Homo sapiens: one gene and its partners. The protein of the gene in region 1 purifies or fractionates together with the protein of each later gene. This does not show direct contact. Each region holds a gene or a part of one and is shown in the gene's direction. Other genes may lie near its edges.

Region 1 (4,126 bases):
CCTTAAACAAGAACTCTTTGGAGTCCTCAGTAATTTTTGAGTGTGTAAAGAGGTCCTAAACCACAACTTTAAAAACTATTGCTAACAGGTGGGGGGTGCTTTACCCTGTTCATGGTCAGATAAAGTTGCCTTTCCTCCCCATCCTCCAGTCATGTCCAGAAGCCCAAAGTTACCTCCAAGCAGATAACTCTGACCCTGCTTCTCCTCTACCACAGCTTGAGGGTCCTCTGCCTTAGACAGCTGGATTTATCTAAAAGAGAAGAGCAGTCATAGATCTGTAGATTTTATACTGGAAGTAATTGTCATGGCCTTGAATGGTTCCTTGCTCAGGTTTCTCTTTCTAATATCACATTTTAGGCTCCTGAGCTTAGCTTCTTACTTATTATTTGGTCTGGGAGTTTAGGTTGATTTGTGCAGCTGAATTGTTAAATTCAGAATATATTTACTGATTACTTATTACATGCAGAGCACAGCTCTAAATGCAATATCAATCTTTGCGAAAAGGTGTTGTCACCTAACGAGATGTACTTCAGCTTGAAAAATCCTTATATTACAGCTGTGACAAATAGTCAACTTTACATCAAGTTGGTAAACTTTACATTTGTGGCATGTGTATGTGTGAGTATGTGTGTGTATGTGTGAATATGATGTCAGAAGTTCAACCTATTCATTAATAAACAGAATTTGCTGTAATCTGCCCCCCAACCCTGGCAATATTTATAGTTCCCTACAAGGCAAAATGCTTTGCTCACTTTTGGAGCAAAGGGCATGCAATTCATCAATGCATCCTTTTCCAAGCTTGCAAATAATGAAATCAGTCACTTAAAGATCTCAAAAAGTTGTAATTTAAAGCAAAATAAAGCCAGGCATAGGGGCTTATGCCTGTAATCCCAGCACTTTGGGAAGCTGAGGCAGGAGGATTGCTTGAGGCCAAGAGTTTGAAGCCAGCCTGGTCAACATAGTGACACCCTATCTCTACAAAAATAAAAAATAAAAAATAAATAAAATAAAGTGACTAATGCAGTGAACCTAATGTTTAAAATCTATTTTTTGTGATATAATAATGTGAACAAGTAGTGACTTTTATAATATAATTTAAAATTATAATCTAGAATTAAAAAGCAAACACATCTGTAATAGCACCAGTATTTTTGCAGTGTTACTTACATCATCTGCTTTTCATTGTTTTGGTCATCGTAATTATTGTGTCATTATCCACTGAACAGTTCGTAGCAGTGTTCTTGCTCATAAGTGATATAGATGAAAGCCTTCTACTCAGGCTTTTAAAATATATTCTTATATTAATCAAAAATAAAATTCATGTGCAAAACCTAAAAATATAATTAATGAAACCATACTTCAGGAGAATTATGGTTATTTGTGATTTTTTTATGACTTGTTAATGACACATCAGTATGAGTTGCTCATTTAGCCTTGATTCTGCCGAGTTACCAGTGAAGAGCAACAACCCCACTGCTTTCTCTCCCACTGAAGGAAACGCTAGAGTTCAAGTGGGTGTGAGTTATACCAAAAACGACAATGTTAACTACACTTCTGTCTTGGAAAATACTTGTTTAGTGTGTTCCATTACTACATAACTGCTACTCTAATGGAATCAGAAGTATTTCTTAATAAGGCTCTACTTTCCTATATATATTATTTAGAATAATATGATTGATTCAAGAAAATAAAATTGCTCTCCTCGTCCCTCCAGGTGTTCATCTATATCATTGTTTCACCTCTCTGTGGTGGATTTACATGGCCAAGCTGTGTGAAGAAATAGGAAAGAAGAAGTTACCATTAACCAAGGATATGAGAGAACAAGGAGTTAAAAGCAATCCATGTGACTCAAGCCTTTCACATACTGACAGATGGTATCTGCCAGTCTCTTCAACCCTCTTCTCACTTTTTAAAATCTTGTTCCATGCCTCCAGGTTTATCTTTGTCTTATCTACCAGTTTATTCCTGTGAACTTCAGATTGAACCATTCATTGCAGCAGTAGCCTTAAAAAGGCTTTTGTTTATTTCTTTGGTTTGTTAACTAGTGTCATCTATTTAGAGAAACATTTTTGTTTTTAATTGCTCAAAGCTGTCGCCGCTAGTCTTATGAGCTATCTACTAAAACTATGGAGAAACTTTGTATGTGCACACAAAAGTATTCAAGAGACAGTATTGCTAACATCTCATCTTAATGTCTTTTGTTATTGAGAAGTTTTAGGTGCTTCAAAACAATATAAATGGATAATAGTTGTTATTTGGGGAATTGTAATGATGTTGGTGCTGCTTCCTTCTAAGAGCTCAGACAAGTAAAGTATGAAACATTCTTATTTCAGTTAGATGGGGAACATTTTGCTAGCCCATTAGAAGCACACAGAATTATCCTTGTCCTCCTAATATTGACTTTCAGGAATAAAGTTCAGTGTGCTGATCATTCACAATACAGTGGATAGCTTGATATCTTCTGTTTTCCCATTGCAGTTGATTTGAGAAGATGAAGGTTTAAATATTGTTGAAAGTTGCAGTTTTTTAAATGTGTTCCTTTTTCTTCTGTGAATATTTAGGGCAATCGTGTCGCTAATAGAATATGTAGTAGAGGGGGTGGGGAGGTAAATTCCTCTGACTTGCCAAAGAAAAAGAAGGGAACCACAGTGGATATGCTAGCATTTTAGCTGTGCAAAGGGAGGTAGTGTGGGAAAAGTGTTTCCATTCTGGGAAAAGCCCAAACCGAATACGGTCAGCAGTCAACTCCAGGGTTTGGGCTTGATTCCTGTTGAATAATAGTTTTGAGCATTCTTTGTGGTTAAATAAATTCTTAAATCTGCCTAGTTTTGATGAATTCTTTTGTGAAACTTGAAAGAGAATAGACAGTATGACATATAGAATTAATACAAAACAGTTTAACAACCATTTAACTGCAGTGTAAGAAAATTGGACTGTAATCATATCGCTACTGGCATCTGTTATCTAGTATGCATTTCTGGTGTGTATCTGAAAGGAAGACATTTTCTACCCTAGATCCAATTGCATTTATTTATCAATAAGTGCCATTAAATTGAAATTATATTACATTTTACACTTTCTCAATGAATGAACAAATTAGTCTGTAGAATCTAGCCACCTGTTTAGCCTAGTCATGTGCCTTGAACATATATGTGTCCCATAATCTGGCTCATGGTACCTGTTCTTCTATCCAAACCTTTCAATTCATGCTACCTGATTCATTTATTTGACATAGATCTTAGGCCCACTTGAACTCTTTTCTTGTTTATCTAGCATAGCACAAACGTTTTTCCAGTCTTCTTTATCAACACTAATGCCTCTTAATTGCATCAGTATTTCCTATTGGAAAATACATCTGTTCCAGAAAAACATTTGGCATTCCTGAATAATTTCCAAATGTTTTTAATCCAAAGAAAAAGGTTTAAAGCTTATTTCCCTTTCTTATACACACCTGAATAAAATTGATGTGCATGTTTTAGGGATCAATTACCTAACTGTTCCTTGGTCTATTTATGTATAAGAATGCTTTTTAAAGCACATGTCTCATTTTAAATGACGCACAAACTGAAGATGTTAATAAAATTTAAGAGTAATACAATGATTTGCTTGTTTTAGAAGTTCTTTCTGGAACCTAATTTCTTCTGATGACATTTGCCATTGTTTACAGAACAAAAGTATTTTACTTATGCGGAAAATATATTAAGAAGTGTTACCTGGAGACTTCCAGTAAAGATCTGTAGCATAGTCTCAGGTGTGTAGAATTTCTTCAAAAGACACAAATGAACTTAAAAAATATATAGCCCATGCTGAAACCAATGAAAGATTCTGAGATGATCACACAGCCTTCACAACTATCGTCCTGAGTGCATGATTTAGACAGAACTGAAAAAGAACCCCAGGGATTTTCATCCAGTTTAGCACAATTCTGAAAAATCTTTCTATCTAAAGTTAAATGACTGGTTCTGAAAGAGACTCAAGCGGAAGGCATAATGGTGGGAGGGAATAATTCATTATAGCAAACAGGGTACCTAAACAGAAATAAAAGAAAAACAGGCACAAATCAAATATACAAATAGATAGGTCACAACAAAATAATCAGTCACTTGGGACCTCTGAACGTAAGGTG
Region 2 (3,701 bases), on another chromosome or scaffold:
TCTGTTTGATTTTAGAGAGATTCCCTAGTTGCCCTATCCAATGTAGTAGCTCCTAACTACATGTGACTGTTGAGCACTTAAAATGTAGCCAGTTTGAACTGAGATGTGCTGTGAATGTAAAATATATACCAGATTTCTAAGACTTACTACAAATAAAACAATGTAAAAGATTTTAAGTTTTATAATTGCATATTAAAATAGTATTTTAGCTATATTAGGTTAAATAAAATATTATTAAAATTAATTTCCCTTGTTTTTACTTTTTTAATGTAATTTAAAAAATTTTTAAATTACATATGTGGCTTGTGTGTGTGATTTGCATTATGTTTGTGTTGGATGGTGTTTGCTATGTAATAAAGTAGTTAGAACACAAGATCTGTGGTCTGGATTTGATTCTTGCCTATACTATTTACTAGCAGTGTAATCCTGGGCTACTTTTTGAACTTCTTGCTTTAATTTTCTCTTCTATAAAATGAGAATAATAGTAATATCCATTTCAAAGATATATTGTGAGGGGAAGATAAAAGACGTAAAGCTGTTAGCACAATCGATAACTTTAAGTGTTGATTAAAATTTAGCCACTATTTATGTTTTTGTTATCATTGTTGCTGTTATTATAGTATCAGATTTTATACTTCAGTGGGTTTTTTCTTTCTCTCCCTCAAAATTTTCCACATTACTCATAGTAATAGAGTTCTTAGCTGGATACTGTAATTTGACTGGGGACAGACATATGTACAAATTACATAAGTGAGGAAGGTGTCACAAACAAATGCTCATTAAGTTTGGCTGTAGAAAATTTTTAATGCTTCTCCAAGATAATATTACCTAAAATATTTCTGTAGACTGGTAACTATATAACCAAGCTTTATAATTATGGTCCAGAAAGGAGTCACATAGCCAGGAAATGGTGGTGTGTTGGAAACAGTATTGTTCTGGGACTTGAGGCCTGGGCTGTAGTCCAAATTCTGCCACTGTGTTTGTCTAGACTCCAGTTTCCTTATTGTAAAATTGTGAGGTTGTATTAGATGCTCACTTATGCCCCCTTTAAGGTTATATAATTTTAACATATTAATACCTACATTTCACATATTTTGAATCTACAGTTTAATTATCCTTAGGTTTTTCAGCTCATATTAGAATGGTAAGAGACTGAAGATAAGGTTACAGGAAGTATAGAGTCATGGTAAGATAGAGGCACAATTTTTTCACCCAGAAAAATCTTACAAGATGCTTTAGGTTGTAACTAAACTATTTTTTTTTCTAGAATTGACTTTAATTTTACTACAGTAAAATGGAAACTTTAGATTGTATTATATTAAGATACTACATAGATAGACATTATTATTATAGTTTAGTGGAAAGATTGCTGGCCCTATCGGAATATCTGGGTTTTAACCCCAGTTTTGCCACTAGATAACTTAAGTAAATCCTAAACAGGTTTTTTTTTGTTTGCTTTTTCCATATGTAATAATTTGGACTGTAATAATGTAACACCTCACTCAGAGTATGCACTTGAAAAATTAATTCTTACTTAACTGGTCTGTCTACTGTGTAGGATTTGCATTAATATTGTGAAAACACTTTAGGGGAAAATAATTTAAAATATATGAATAGACATATAACTTTTCTTACTTTGATTATTTTTGCAAATTTGTTCTATTTAATCTTAAAGGGATTGTTTCTTTGTTTTCAAAGTATAGACCATTGAGAAAGAGGGAAAGCTCCCCAGTATATTTTATGAAGTTAGCACAACCTTAAACCTGTTAAAGCAAATTTAAACCTAGTAAAGATAGTATAAATACACAAACTGTGTACATGCACACATGTATACACACACACACACACACACACACTCCTATGTGCTAAAGTTTCAAATAAAATACTAGCAAATGAATTCAGCATTGTATTTAAAAATTATATATATTGACTAGAAAGGCTTTATCCCAGGAATATAAAGATGACTCTACACTACAAAATCTGTACATAATTCATTATAGCAACATATTAGAGGTAAATTTATAACTAAGCCAGTAGGTATTTCTCAAAAAGAAGGAAAATCATTTGATAAAAATCTAACAACTTCATTCATAGGGAAGTGCAGAGTAAAGCAACAGTGAGATGACATGCAGGACTGGCAGCATGTGAAGAAATAGGCAATCATACCTTGATGCTAGTGTGAAGTGTTACTGCTTTTTGGGAAAAAAACAACAATAGCTTCTGAAATAAAAATGCACATTATCATTTGAATATTCCTGTTTCTGGGAGTCTTTCCTACACAAAATAATATATTAATATTAGTGTATACTATAATGTTAATATATACTAATATAGTAAATTAGGACTTATATGCAGGGATATTTGTTTCATAGTTTGTAATAACTAAAAATTAGGAACAACATGAATGTTGATCACCGAAGGAGTGACTGAGTAAATTATTCTACACTACACCGTGGAATATAGTGTAACCATTGAGCAGGAGGGATAATATTGTTGAGTATGGAATGGCAAATTATAGATTACTGTGTATAATGTAATCCATTTTTTAATAAAAAGGGAGAAGCCTTATATATGTTAAATGTGTGCATGAGCCGTGAGAAATGTGTGGGAGTATTGAGTTAAGAGGGGGTGGGATAGGTGAAGTGAGAATATCATTTTTATTTCATATGCTTCTGTAGTGTTTGATTTATTGTGAAGAGCATTTATTTTTGTATAACCACATTTAATGAAGGAAAAATGCTAAATAAATTCAAAGTATGAGCATGTGGGTTCCAAAGATGCTGCATTTGGCCAGCCAGAGACATGGAAAATGTAAAAGTATTATGCTACACCTTCTATTGTGGAGATATTTGTTATAATTTCCATCCACAACTATTATAACATTACTTCTGAAAAGAAAGATATCTTATACTAAGAAATGGTGGCATTAATGATTTTTTTCTTTTATAGCAACTCCGATCCAATATCCGAGAAATTGAGAAACTTTGTTTGAAAGTCCGAAAGGATGACCTAGTACTTCTGAAGAGAATGATAGATCCTGTTAAAGAAGAAGCATCAGCAGCAACAGCAGAATTTCTCCAACTCCATTTGGAATCTGTAGAAGAACTTAAGAAGCAATTTAATGATGAAGAAACTTTGCTACAGCCTCCTTTGACCAGATCCATGACTGTTGGTGGTAATGTATTGTGCTAAGTCTTATTCTCAGTCACAGTAGTGCAGTTAATTAAAGATCACCTCCTTGAGTAGATACTGAATTATCTATAGGTCTTCAGAGACCATTCACTATCCCAATATGCTGAATCCTTGGACCCTGATCAGTGTTCCTGGAAATGTGTACCCTGGATATTTTGCAGAATAAAAAATTTAAGGCTATGCTTATGGAGTGGGACTTCAGGGAAAGTACCCGTTTGTCTATTTATTGAAGAGAAATTTAAATATATTTCCTAAGGATAATGTCATTCTTGTCTGCAAAGTACTCTTTACTCCTTTCCAGGTGCAGGGGTGACCTCTTCAGGCATGCTTTTTTTTCTTAAGCATTCTGATTTTCAGAGGGGATGTTAGATCTATCTTTCAGCCAAGTTCTCTGAATAACTGACAACATTAAGTAATCTACAATGGGAGTTAAGCCATCATCTTCTGTGAAGTGATACTCTAAGAAACAGCCCTGTGAAATTTGTCATTACATCTCTTCTAAGGATGTA
Region 3 (3,701 bases), on another chromosome or scaffold:
AAAATGTAAACTTTGGATTCGCAAATGAAAGACTATTTTCCAGACTTCCCAAGCTACCAATAAAGAAATTTCTACATGATTTTAATAAATACACAAAAGTTACCGAAGTTGAATGATAACGTTTAAGTAAAAAGGCTTAGTATAAGTTCGTGTCCCTTCATTGGTTCAAGAACCTCTTAAGTCTGAAAATTTTTCAAGTCTTGAAAATTGTAAAACAAGGATAATTGAGGGTTTTATAAGAGGAAGTAAAAAAGAAGTTTGACATGTTCAGGTGAAAAAGTAAAACTAACACTTTTTCTTATTTTTAAGTGAGGGATCTGACTCCTTAATTTTCTAGTTTTTCTTTTAATCAAGGGCTCTATTACTGTCACCATTGAGAAATTGTAATAATATCAAGAGACATGTAGGTAAGTGGTCACTTTAGGTACAAAATATTGATTGGGTTAAGCCCAGTTGCTGGCATTGGTTGGGTGTAGAGAGTAACAAAAAAAGAAAGAAGGACGTAGATATGACTATTTAAAAGAGGCTCTTAATTTTGTAACTCCTGTTATGTGAATCTAAAGGTCTGATTGTTAAAGCAGTTGAACCCAAAGTTCTTGTTTTATGTGGCTTACTCATGGTAGTTTGGCATTGCTAACCACTCTGGGCTTGCAACTTTCTTGTTAATTTTTGCAACATTATTCTCGCTTGATTTTTTTCTTTACTTCTCTGACTGGTCTTTCTTAAACCTGTCTTTGAGTGTATACTCTTACATTTGATGTTCCTCTGGATTATCTCTTCACCCCTCTTCTTTCTCATGATGCTCTTGCACATTATTTTTAAAAATATTACCCACTCTTGATAGTGTATCTGCACTGAGACACGTACTGGAAGCTATATATTGTTTGACATCTCAATCTAAAACAACTCATCTTTCTTACTTATGACTAGAGTTCCTCCTCTTCATTTATATTCTTTTCTTGGTGAACATCAGTGTCTACCAATTTCTAAATGCAAAGGAGAAAGATACAATTTTAAGCGAAATGGTGGTGATATGCACAACTTGCAGAAGGTTACATAAAACTTGGGTTTTCAGAGATGATTTTTTCTTTTCTTTTTAGGATATGTTCAAGGAATGAGTGATTTACTTTCCCCTCTTTTATATGTGATGGAAAATGAAGTGGATGCCTTTTGGTGCTTTGCCTCTTACATGGACCAAATGGTAAGAACAGAGATTCCTTCCATTAAACTGATTTTTAAAATTTTAGTTGTATAATTTTATAGTATAAGGTTGATTTTTATATTTAGCCAACTATGATGGAACTTAAAAAAATTACCTCATGCCTTTTGTTACTTTTTCTTTTTAGTAGCCTTTCAAGGGCTTAGAAATACTGGTGGTATTTTTAATACAGGAAATAGTTTGTGCCTGTAGTATAGGAATAATCAGGATTTAATATCAGTAAATGCTTATTTTCTACTAAAGAGCCATGTGTCATTACAGAATATTGATAAAATAGATGAATTCAATTTTGTGGAATAGTTGAACTTTAATATCATCTGTTTCAGAGATAAAGCTTAGTCATGCCAAGTAATATCCTTACCTTTTGTGAAGATTTTGAATTTTGTCATTATAGTAACTGATTTTTCTCCAGATGTGTTTGAACTATTTGTAACTCTGACACTTTCTTAGGAATTCATTGTTATTTTCCCAGAAGTATGTGATTATTAGAATTGAACTGTCTATATATACATGTTAGTACAAAGAACATTTTATCTATTATCATTGTTAAATCTTTGAGACAGAGTTCTAGGATAATAGTGCAGAGAATATTGACAGGAAAATAAAAGAAAAGTCTCTTCAAGCAATCTCAGAAAAATAAAAGCAGAAGGGGTGAGACTAGATAAAGGCAGATGAAGTCCAAAGACCTGACTACATAGAGGTTGCTGTGTTTTTTCAAAATAACACTAACATACTGGATGCTGGGCCTTTATGTTGGATATTGAAATGGCTGGCTTGCTTGCAAGGGATAAACATTTTGAATCTAACCATCTGAAATATTTTCCTGTAATACAGGGTTTAACTCAGAGTTTCTGGGATACAAATGTGAAATTTGGAAGTGGTACCCTTCTCCTTTTTTCTTTACTTCTATTCTTTCCCTTTTGCTTGCCTATTTTTCTTTCTCCTTCAAATTTTCCCTGCTTGTGGCTATTTCCCCAAATCTCTTGTCCATAGATTCAACTTGTTTTTGCTTCTTTCAGTTTTTTTCTAAATGTATACTTGGTAAGATTTGATAGATTTAAAATGTTCTTTTACATTAAATTCATGAATATTCAAATTGGTTTTTTGCCATAAATTAATTTTTTTTGACTATTTGGAAGGATTATCAATGCAGTAATTTGGTAATGTCATAGTTTGTCTTCCTTCCTTTTTTGATTGATTTGTCTACCTTCTTAGTTCCATTTACTCCCAAGTGCTCTAGAAACCTGAGGCATTTGTTATAAAGGTCTGTACAGCTGATACTAATTACATAAAAACTGTTGTCTGCCTTCCTTGTGTTTTTGTTGTTTATCCTCTTTTCACCAGAGCTAGTATGTTCCTTGATAAAAGGGATTATATCTTGTTTCACTGGTAGCATACCAGAATTTTCCTAATGCCTGACATGAGGTTGTTCAACGGGTTTTTGTAGAATAAACATGTGAATCTTTCCCCAGTGATTAGTTTAAATTGCTATAGTAGATATTCTAAAAAAAAAAAAAAAAACACAACTAAGATGAACATACTGCATTTAGTATCATGCAATAAGTTTTCAATAAAACTAATCCAATATTGGCATGTAAATATATATTGACATATAATGCCACATACACACATGCATACAGACGTGTGTATATAGGTCTCATATGTAAAGACTACCTTCTGAACATGTGTAATAAACACTTTACAGTCCGTCATTTTTTGTGTATGAAGGTTCAGTTTCTTTGTTCTGTCATTTTCACAGTAAATGCTCTCTGTGTTTGCCTTTTCCATTAAGGATGTTCTGGGGATTTTTCTAGTCTTTATTCTAAAAAAGATATCTTATGATTATGTTGTCTGCTAACATCTTTTCTTTCATAATATTTGAATGAGAGGGAAATATATGGCAATCAAAATAACCTGTATGATTGTTTTTCACTGCATTGCCCTTGTTTGATGTCCCTAAATCTGTGCTGCTGTTTCTTGATTCTGTGTTTCTGTTTTATAGCTTTACTTCATGTAAGTTTGTACTACCTTTGTGGTGGCTGAACCTAACGTCTGTAAATTTACTTTTGTTGATGTTTACTTGCATCTAATGTAGGTCTAGGCATAGACTTTGTCTATTATCATGGAAATACAAAGTACAAGTGATCTGATGAACTTTGTTATACCCATCATCCATTTTGCCATATAGTTTTAATTCCTTTCTCCTCTCCATCTCCCCCTCCCCTGCCCCATACAGACACATTTATTTACAGACACATTTGAAGCCCTTTGTATATCCATTGTTGATCCCACTCTCCCTTCTCCAGGAGTAACCACTTTTTCGAATATGGTGTCTGTCATTATGGACATGTTTCTTTTTTACAGCAGAGTGGGTAGCAAATGTCTATGCCATGTTGGTATTCCCAGATCAGCTCTAGTCTTTGACTGTGTCACAGCAAAAATGATCCTGTTAATCAGAGTTGATTCTGCCCCTTCTCTATAG
Region 4 (3,701 bases), on another chromosome or scaffold:
CAAATTCATGGTCAATACAATAGATAAAAACCTCAGATGGACTTTATTAATGCTGAGACCAACTTATTTTCACAGCATGTTTGTTTACTAATAAGTATGGTTATCATCAAAATATGGGAGAGAAGGGAAGAGGAATGAATCGTACTAAATGAAAAAGTGGCTCTGCGTGATCTATAAGTGGACTAGCACTAGACTAAAAGTCAGAGGATCTTCATTCAGCTCTGCCACTTTAGTTATATGTCCTTTTACGTAATGCTGGGGAGGGGTTCAGGTTTGATACTTAGGAACCTTCCTATGACATAAACCCTAGGTAATCTATGTGAAAATATCTTAAAAACTAAGTGGTGTCTGTAATCCCAGTGCTTTGGGAGGCCAAGGCGGGCAGATCACAACGTCAGGAGATCGAGACCATCCTGGCTAACACGGTGAAACCCTGTCTTTACTTAAAAAAATTAAAAAAATTAGCCAGGCATGGCGGCACGCGCCTGTAGTGCCAGCTACTCAGGAGGCTGAGGCAGGAGAATCACTTGAACCCGACAGGTGGAGGTTGCAGTGAGCCAAGATCACACCACTGCGCTCCAGCCTGGGCAACAGAGTGAGACTCCATCTCAAAAAAAACAAAAACAAAAACAAAAAAAACTAAGTGGTGTGTAAAATGGTAAAGCAGTGTAGCTCAGACTTTACATGAATTGATTTCCCAGTCATAGAGACCTAGTTGAAGTTCTGGCCCTACCACTTAATAACTGTGTGACTTTGGACAGTGTACTTAAGTAAGGTTAAGTTTTCTCACGTTTAAATCTATAGATGGTGCTATTAAGTTAGATCATGAATGTAAAATGCCTAGAACATATTTTGTAAAAAAAATTTTTAATTAATTTTACTGATAACTACTTTGATTTTATATACTGAATTTCTAAAGACTTAAGACAACCCACAGAATTGACTGATGTCCCTGTGAGCAGCAGGTTTGGGGCATGAAGAAGAGAGTAGAATTTGAAAAGAAGCTATTACCCAAAAAATGGGGGAACAAGAAAAGTGTACTTGTAGCAAAGATTCTAAAACAGATTTATTAATTTTATCTGAAAAATATCAAGATAAAGTCCCTTATTTGGGCAACTGCAGTGTCTTAATATTTTCTATATAAAGATTTTCCAAAGCTTGTAATCATTAATGTATGGAATAAATTTAAGGAGGCAGTTCTTCAATTTTGAAGTTTTTATTCCTGCAATGGATTATAGAAGTATATTAAAATTGTACAGATTGTAGAGCAGGGACTTTTGAGTTAATGCTTATAAGCTTAAAAATTTTGTCTTTTTAAAAAAATTAAGTGTTTTTATATCTTATTTTTATCCTTATATGAAATAGACAAAGAAATGTAGAGAACATAATGGAGACATAAACTAGAGTAAAATTCTTCCCTTCTTAAATTCATGATTCACAAGGGTTAGTAGTTTTGCAATGGAAAATATCAGCAAATTAAACAGTAAGTATAGCTATCATGAGTTTATGAATCACTTTATTCCTGAAAAAAAAAATTACTCATTTGTCTTAAGGAAAGATTTTATTAAGTTTATTGACTTTTCCTTAATGTTGATTGTCTATTATAACAAATGGATTTATTGATTTAGGAATGAATTTATTCTTTATACTAAGTAACTTTATTTTAAATAAATGAAATGTGAGCAATAAAAATGTTTTCCATATAATTTCTGAAGAGAATATTAGTTTTGCTATTCTCTTTTTTCCCTATGGTGAAATGATAGCGACTTTGGTTTTTATAAGTGTATTCATTTATATTTAGTATATACATATTATGTATATACTATATATAGAGTAAATATTTGTAGTATATAAAGTACGCAATGTGTGTGTATGTATATATAAAGACAGCTGAAGTGGTTGTGTATCTTCGTAGTAACATATTTATTTTTACCTGAAACTACTGAAGTGATCTTTAGAATAATGATTTATTTACATTTGAAACTCCTCTTTCTGTATATTTCTTTGTAGTTAGCTCTAGTTAATAAATTTACAACTGTGATTAGCTGTTTTTAAAAATTAATGGTATATCATAAGTATTTTCAGATTTAAATTTTAGAAGGAAACACTTTCTTATATCTTAAGGTTTTAAAAATCACTATTATTTTTGGTATTATTATGACTAACAACAAAAATTTCAGTTTTGGATCTTAATGCTATCTGTTGAAACTGTTCTCTTGGTAAGCCTTTAAAAAAATTTTATCTGCAACATGCCACATTTTGTTTCTTTTCTGAAAAATAATTAAGCTTATTTCACTGAAAATAAAATGGGTGGTATATGATATGATATAGAAGAGTTTCAGATGTGCTTGAGCAATGAAAAGCAACCAGACTTTATAAGTTTTTAGTTCTTAGTTTAATTTTTTTAATGTTTAAAGGTACAATAGAGAAGACTAATTGAATTGGAAAATACCTTTAAAATTGAAAAAAGAGCATATGTATAATAATAATAGTATATACATATGGAAAAAGTTGTAAGGAAATGCATCAAAATAAGTAATTATCTCTAGATTGATGCATTAAAGAAAAAATTAAAATTTATTACTATACCTTCTGTATATTTGAATTCATAATGTCAGTAGGCATTGCAAAATATTTCTTAATTTGATATGGAAAATTAAGGCACCTAAATAATTCTTTCATCTTAACTACTTGGATATCTTAAGTGAAAATGTTTTGTCTCATCCAGGTAGCTGAGTAAGTTATTTAATTTTATAGGTGTGTAAATATATTTTTAATTTTAAGTATATAAGTGCAGCAGAATTTTAAAAAGCAGAGTAAATCTCAGTATATAAGATAATTTACCACATTTCAAAGGGATAATTCAATCCAATGGTGAAAAAGGGCACATATATATCATAAATGTTAACTGATACAACTTGCTCATCTAGAAGAAAATATAATTGATCCAATACATTGCAACAGATGCAAAAACTGATTTCAGATGGATTAGAGGCTTAAATGTAAACAATAAAATATTTAAGATATTAATCTCCTAAATTTCCTTTATACAAACAATCCAGATGTAGTTTTTTAAACCAAGATAGGAAACCTAAAAGTCATAAAAGTATGGATAGACACATGAGACTGCATGGAAACGAAGGATTCTTTAGTGGCAAAAATAAAGGACCAAAGACAAAATCAGGCGGAAAAAAAGGCTTGAGATATATGTAACAGATGAGTTAACCATTGAAAGAACTCTTTCCAATTAAGAAAAAGTTCACCCAGTAAAAATATGGATAAAACATGTCACCAGAAGTTCACAGAAGAGAAATCCAAACATTCAACAAACAGTAAAGGATGTGTAACCTTACTAGTAATCAATATACTAACAATGAAATATTATTTCTCTGACAAGCAAAAATTAAGTGGTAAACCTACTGCTAGCAGGGATATGTGGAGAAGGATTATCTCATAAAATGCTAGCGGAGATGTGAAGTGTTAGAGTTTTTCCTAGTAAACAATCAAGCAACATCAGTTAATACTGAGAATACATGTATTTTCCACCCATCAGTCTAACTCCATGTAATCTTTTCCTTAGAAATAAAAGCACCAGTAAGAGTTTACAGGAGTGTTAGCTGCAACAGTGTTTCAATTTTCAATGTTAGTAGTGGCAAAAAACGTGGAAACAAAGGGAATGCCTGTTAATAGGGGTATTGTTA
Region 5 (3,701 bases), on another chromosome or scaffold:
ATTTTAGCTTTATAATGTAAAGTTCTCTATTTAAATTTTTTTCAGGTCCATAGTACTGGTATGAGTTAGGAAAAAATGAAGTTAATCTCTAATAAACTGTTGAATGTAATAAGAAAATCCAAAGTCATTCCTAGTAGCAATCTCTACTGAAAGGATCTGAGGATAGACCTAGGATATTTTCATCAGAATCTCTTGTAATATTAAGATAATTCTTTTGTAGAGTTTTCCGTCTGATGAAGGTTGGCCATTTGCAAAGTATCTTGGAGCTTGTGGAAGAATGGTGGCTGTAAATTATGTTGGAGAAGAACTGTGGAGTTACTTTAATGCGCCATGGGAAAAACGAGTTGACCTCGCTTGGCAATTAATGGAAATAGCAGAACAGCTTACAAACAATGACTTTGAATTTGCACTCTACCTCCTGGACGTCAGCTTTGACAATTTTGCAGTTGGTCCTAGAGATGGGAAGGTAATCATTGTGGATGCTGAAAATGTTTTGGTTGCTGACAAAAGATTAATTAGACAAAGTAAGTATATAATTTTAGATTTTTTTCTACTCATTTTTTCCTATGTCAAAATAATGTTTATACTTGTATGAAATGAGCCTTGAATTTCCTCCTTAGATGGCAACTTTAAGCGTCTTTCTTTGCTTTATATGACCACTGTCAATAAACAAATACAGATACTCTTTGACTTACTGGGGGTTACATCTTGATAAACCCGGTGTCAGTTGAAAATATTGTTATTTGAAATATATCTAACCTACGGGACATCATAGCTTAGTCTTGCCTACCTTAGACATACTCAGAACACTTACATTAGTCTAAAGTTGGGGGAAATTGTGTAAAACAAAGCCTATTTATAATAAACTGTTGAATATAATTATATTCATGTAATATATTGAATTCTGTACTGAAAGTGAAAAACAGAATGGTTGTATGGGTTCTTGAAATATGGTTTGTACTTTATTTTTAACCATTTTGATGATCCCTGGCACTGCAGCTCTGAGTTTGGTTTGACATTCTGATTATTACATCTCACCCAAAACTTTGCTCTCCATTTACTTTTGAGTTCTTCATGGGATAGATGAGTAGTGTCTGAAGTGTTTTGAAAATTAAATGCCGGCCGGGTGCGGTGGCTTACGCCTGTAATCCCAGCACTTTGGGAGGCCGAGGCGGGCGGATCACGAGGTCAGGAGATCGAGACCATCCTGGCTAACACGGTGAAACCCCGTCTCTACTAAAAATACAAAAAATTAGCCGGGCGAGGTGGCGGGCGCCTGTAGTCCTAGCTACTCGGGAGGCTGAGGCAGGAGAATGGCGTGAACCCCAGGGGGCGGAGCCTGCAGTGAGCCGAGATTGCGCCACTGCACTCCAGCCTGGGCAACAGCGAGACTCCGTCTCAAAAAAAAAAAAAAAAAAAGAAAATTAAAGAAAATTAAATGCCATAGAAGTTGTAAAGCATCAAGAACAAAGCCTGTAGGTCTAGAACCAATTCAGTTAGCAAAACCAAAGGGTTGTTGCTCCATGGTGAGGGTTTTATATTTTTTAATCCCCTCTTTCCCCCTGATAAAAGTAATATGAGTATCTTTTGACAAACAAAGGCTGAAAATTTACGGCACCTGGGGAAAAGTTTATGTGACAGCCATATATTAGGTTGACATTTACTTTTTGCATGATCTTGGCATGATCCTATTAAATACTTGATTTTTCCCACTCCCTTTTTCAGATTTTATACTTACCAGACCACTTTTCTGATTATTTCTTGACTTGCCATGTAGATCCTCCTACAGGAAGTGAACACCCTGCTGGAGTATTCTACTCTCTATTTACCTCTTCCTACATCTGTGAATATTGTAGCAGCGTATACTATTCTTTCTTTTTTAAAGTGTACACAAGCAGGTGGTTTTTAGTATATTCATAGAGTTGTGCAATTTTCCTAAGCTTAAAAAAATTATTTCAGTGTTTATAACAATAATTTTTTATAATTCATTTTATGCAGACATTCCTGGAATAATTATTACTAATTCCTGACCTTAGATGAATCCAGCCATATAGCTTCTGTATTCTTCCATTTCATACAGTGAGCATTGCTCTAGTGCTGCTTTAACTGTGGTCATTTCTTTTCAAATGTCTCATGGGTCCTCTAAATAGTCACTTTGCAAAAGTCTCTGTCTGTTCATTTACTCTCTTTTCTTTCCACTTTCTAGTAAATGACCTTTATTTTATTTCTTCACAGGGAAATTGAGATTTTGCTGTGGCAACTCCCCCAGTGTCCTTTATCATCTAAACCTCATTAAAACAGCAACAGATAGATTCTTCTTTGAGAACTTGTTACATCAGTTATCTTCTTCAGTGTCCCACCTCCTTCCTTTAATATCCAACTTCTCTTGCCTTCCTATAAAAAGTATATATAAGACTCTCTTCTGCTTCTCCTTGCTTGTCCACTGTTTTTAAAAGTATTTATTGCCTTTCTGCTTCCTCAGCCTCTATTCATTCCTTAGTCCATTAAAACCTGACGTAGACCTCTGCCTTGCCATTAGCAACCACCTAATTGGCAAATTTGTGAAGTGATTGTGACTAGTATCAACTTCTCGAAGTTGTTTCCTCCTTTGGAATAGTAACCTTCCTTCTTTTGGAATAGTAACCTTCAAAAAACATTAACTTACTACTCCTTTGCTTAAATGGTTCTAATGACTTCCCATTGTTCTGGAAGTAAAATCCAAACACCTTAAAGCCAGGGCATAATCTGTAATCTGTGTGACTTGGCCCTCTTCTGATCCTTTTTTTTTTTTCTTTTTTGAGACAGGGTCTCTGTCACCCAGGCTGGAGTGCAGTGGTGTGATCACGGCTCACTGCAGCCTTGACCTCCCTGGCTCAAGTGATCTTCCTGCCTCAGCATCCCAAGTAGCTGGGACTACAGGCACATACCACCATGCCTGGCTAATTTTTAAATTTTTTGTAGAGGGTGGGATCTCGCTGTGTTGCCTAGACTGGTCTCAAACTTGTGGGCTTAAGCAGTCCTCCCACCTTGGCCTCTCAAAGTGCTGGGATTACAGATGTGAGCCACCCCGCCCAGCCTGTGTATATATGTGTTTTTCGAGTGCTTCATTTTTAATACCCCTCCATCTATTGCCCTTGGTGCTTCTGCTACAATGGCCTCTTGTTTTCCTGAATGAATCGGCCCACTTCTGGGCATTCCCAGTTTCCTCTTCCAAAAATGTCTCTTCCTTCTTCCCTATACAGCTAGCTATTTGTTTTTCAAGCCTTGACTCCTTCAAGTACATGTGTGCTTATGTGTTCTCAATTTGCCTAATATCCCTCTTACCTCAAAATCATAAGTTTCAAGTCTAGTTCTAGTTGTACATATGACATGCCCACCTAATACCTTATAGCTCCTTTATATTTATTTTGTTTATATATAAAATATTGACACTATTATGGCAATTGTACATACCTTGTCATCCAATTAGAACCTTAAACTTTACCCATATACTTAATTATTTTTGCCTGAAATGTTTCTCCAATCTAGCTTTTCATTCTGGGCCATCTATAGTTGCTCTCATGATCTTAATCCTTCCAATCTTCAGCCCAGAGTTATCTTTCTATAAAATAAATTATGGTCGTGATTACACAAGTTACGACCTATTTTTCTAGCGTCACCTGTATCTCCTTGCCAACTACGTTTCTCACACTCTAGCCACA

Evidence for each region.
Region 2: the proteins of VAMP7 (region 1) and STX17 purify together in Homo sapiens (affinity purification with western blotting; one study listed by BioGRID). This does not show direct contact.
Region 3: the proteins of VAMP7 (region 1) and TBC1D15 purify together in Homo sapiens (co-immunoprecipitation; one large-scale study listed by IntAct). This does not show direct contact.
Region 4: the proteins of VAMP7 (region 1) and ATP6V1A purify together in Homo sapiens (co-immunoprecipitation; one large-scale study listed by IntAct). This does not show direct contact.
Region 5: the proteins of VAMP7 (region 1) and DIPK2A purify together in Homo sapiens (affinity purification with western blotting; one study listed by BioGRID). This does not show direct contact.

Annotation. Positions count from the first base shown.
Region 1 is NC_000023.11:155,940,169-155,944,294, forward strand, and holds the end of VAMP7 (vesicle-associated membrane protein 7), read left to right. Parts: intron 1-1,714; coding exon 1,715-1,783; coding exon of another isoform or gene 1,784-1,971; 3' UTR 1,972-3,601; downstream 3,602-4,126. UniProt on the Homo sapiens protein: Involved in the targeting and/or fusion of transport vesicles to their target membrane during transport of proteins from the early endosome to the lysosome. Required for heterotypic fusion of late endosomes with lysosomes and homotypic lysosomal fusion.
Region 2 is NC_000009.12:99,948,111-99,951,811, forward strand, and holds part of STX17 (syntaxin-17), read left to right. Parts: intron 1-2,949; coding exon 2,950-3,175; intron 3,176-3,701. UniProt on the Homo sapiens protein: SNAREs, soluble N-ethylmaleimide-sensitive factor-attachment protein receptors, are essential proteins for fusion of cellular membranes.
Region 3 is NC_000012.12:71,912,726-71,916,426, forward strand, and holds part of TBC1D15 (TBC1 domain family member 15), read left to right. Parts: intron 1-354; exon of another isoform or gene 355-407; intron 408-1,100; coding exon 1,101-1,201; intron 1,202-3,701. UniProt on the Homo sapiens protein: Acts as a GTPase activating protein for RAB7A. Does not act on RAB4, RAB5 or RAB6.
Region 4 is NC_000003.12:113,749,872-113,753,572, forward strand, and holds part of ATP6V1A (V-type proton ATPase catalytic subunit A), read left to right. Parts: intron 1-3,701. UniProt on the Homo sapiens protein: Catalytic subunit of the V1 complex of vacuolar(H+)-ATPase (V-ATPase), a multisubunit enzyme composed of a peripheral complex (V1) that hydrolyzes ATP and a membrane integral complex (V0) that translocates protons.
Region 5 is NC_000003.12:143,985,323-143,989,023, forward strand, and holds part of DIPK2A (divergent protein kinase domain 2A isoform a precursor), read left to right. Parts: intron 1-220; coding exon 221-524; intron 525-3,701. UniProt on the Homo sapiens protein: May play a role in cardiomyocyte proliferation through paracrine signaling and activation of the PPI3K-AKT-CDK7 signaling cascade.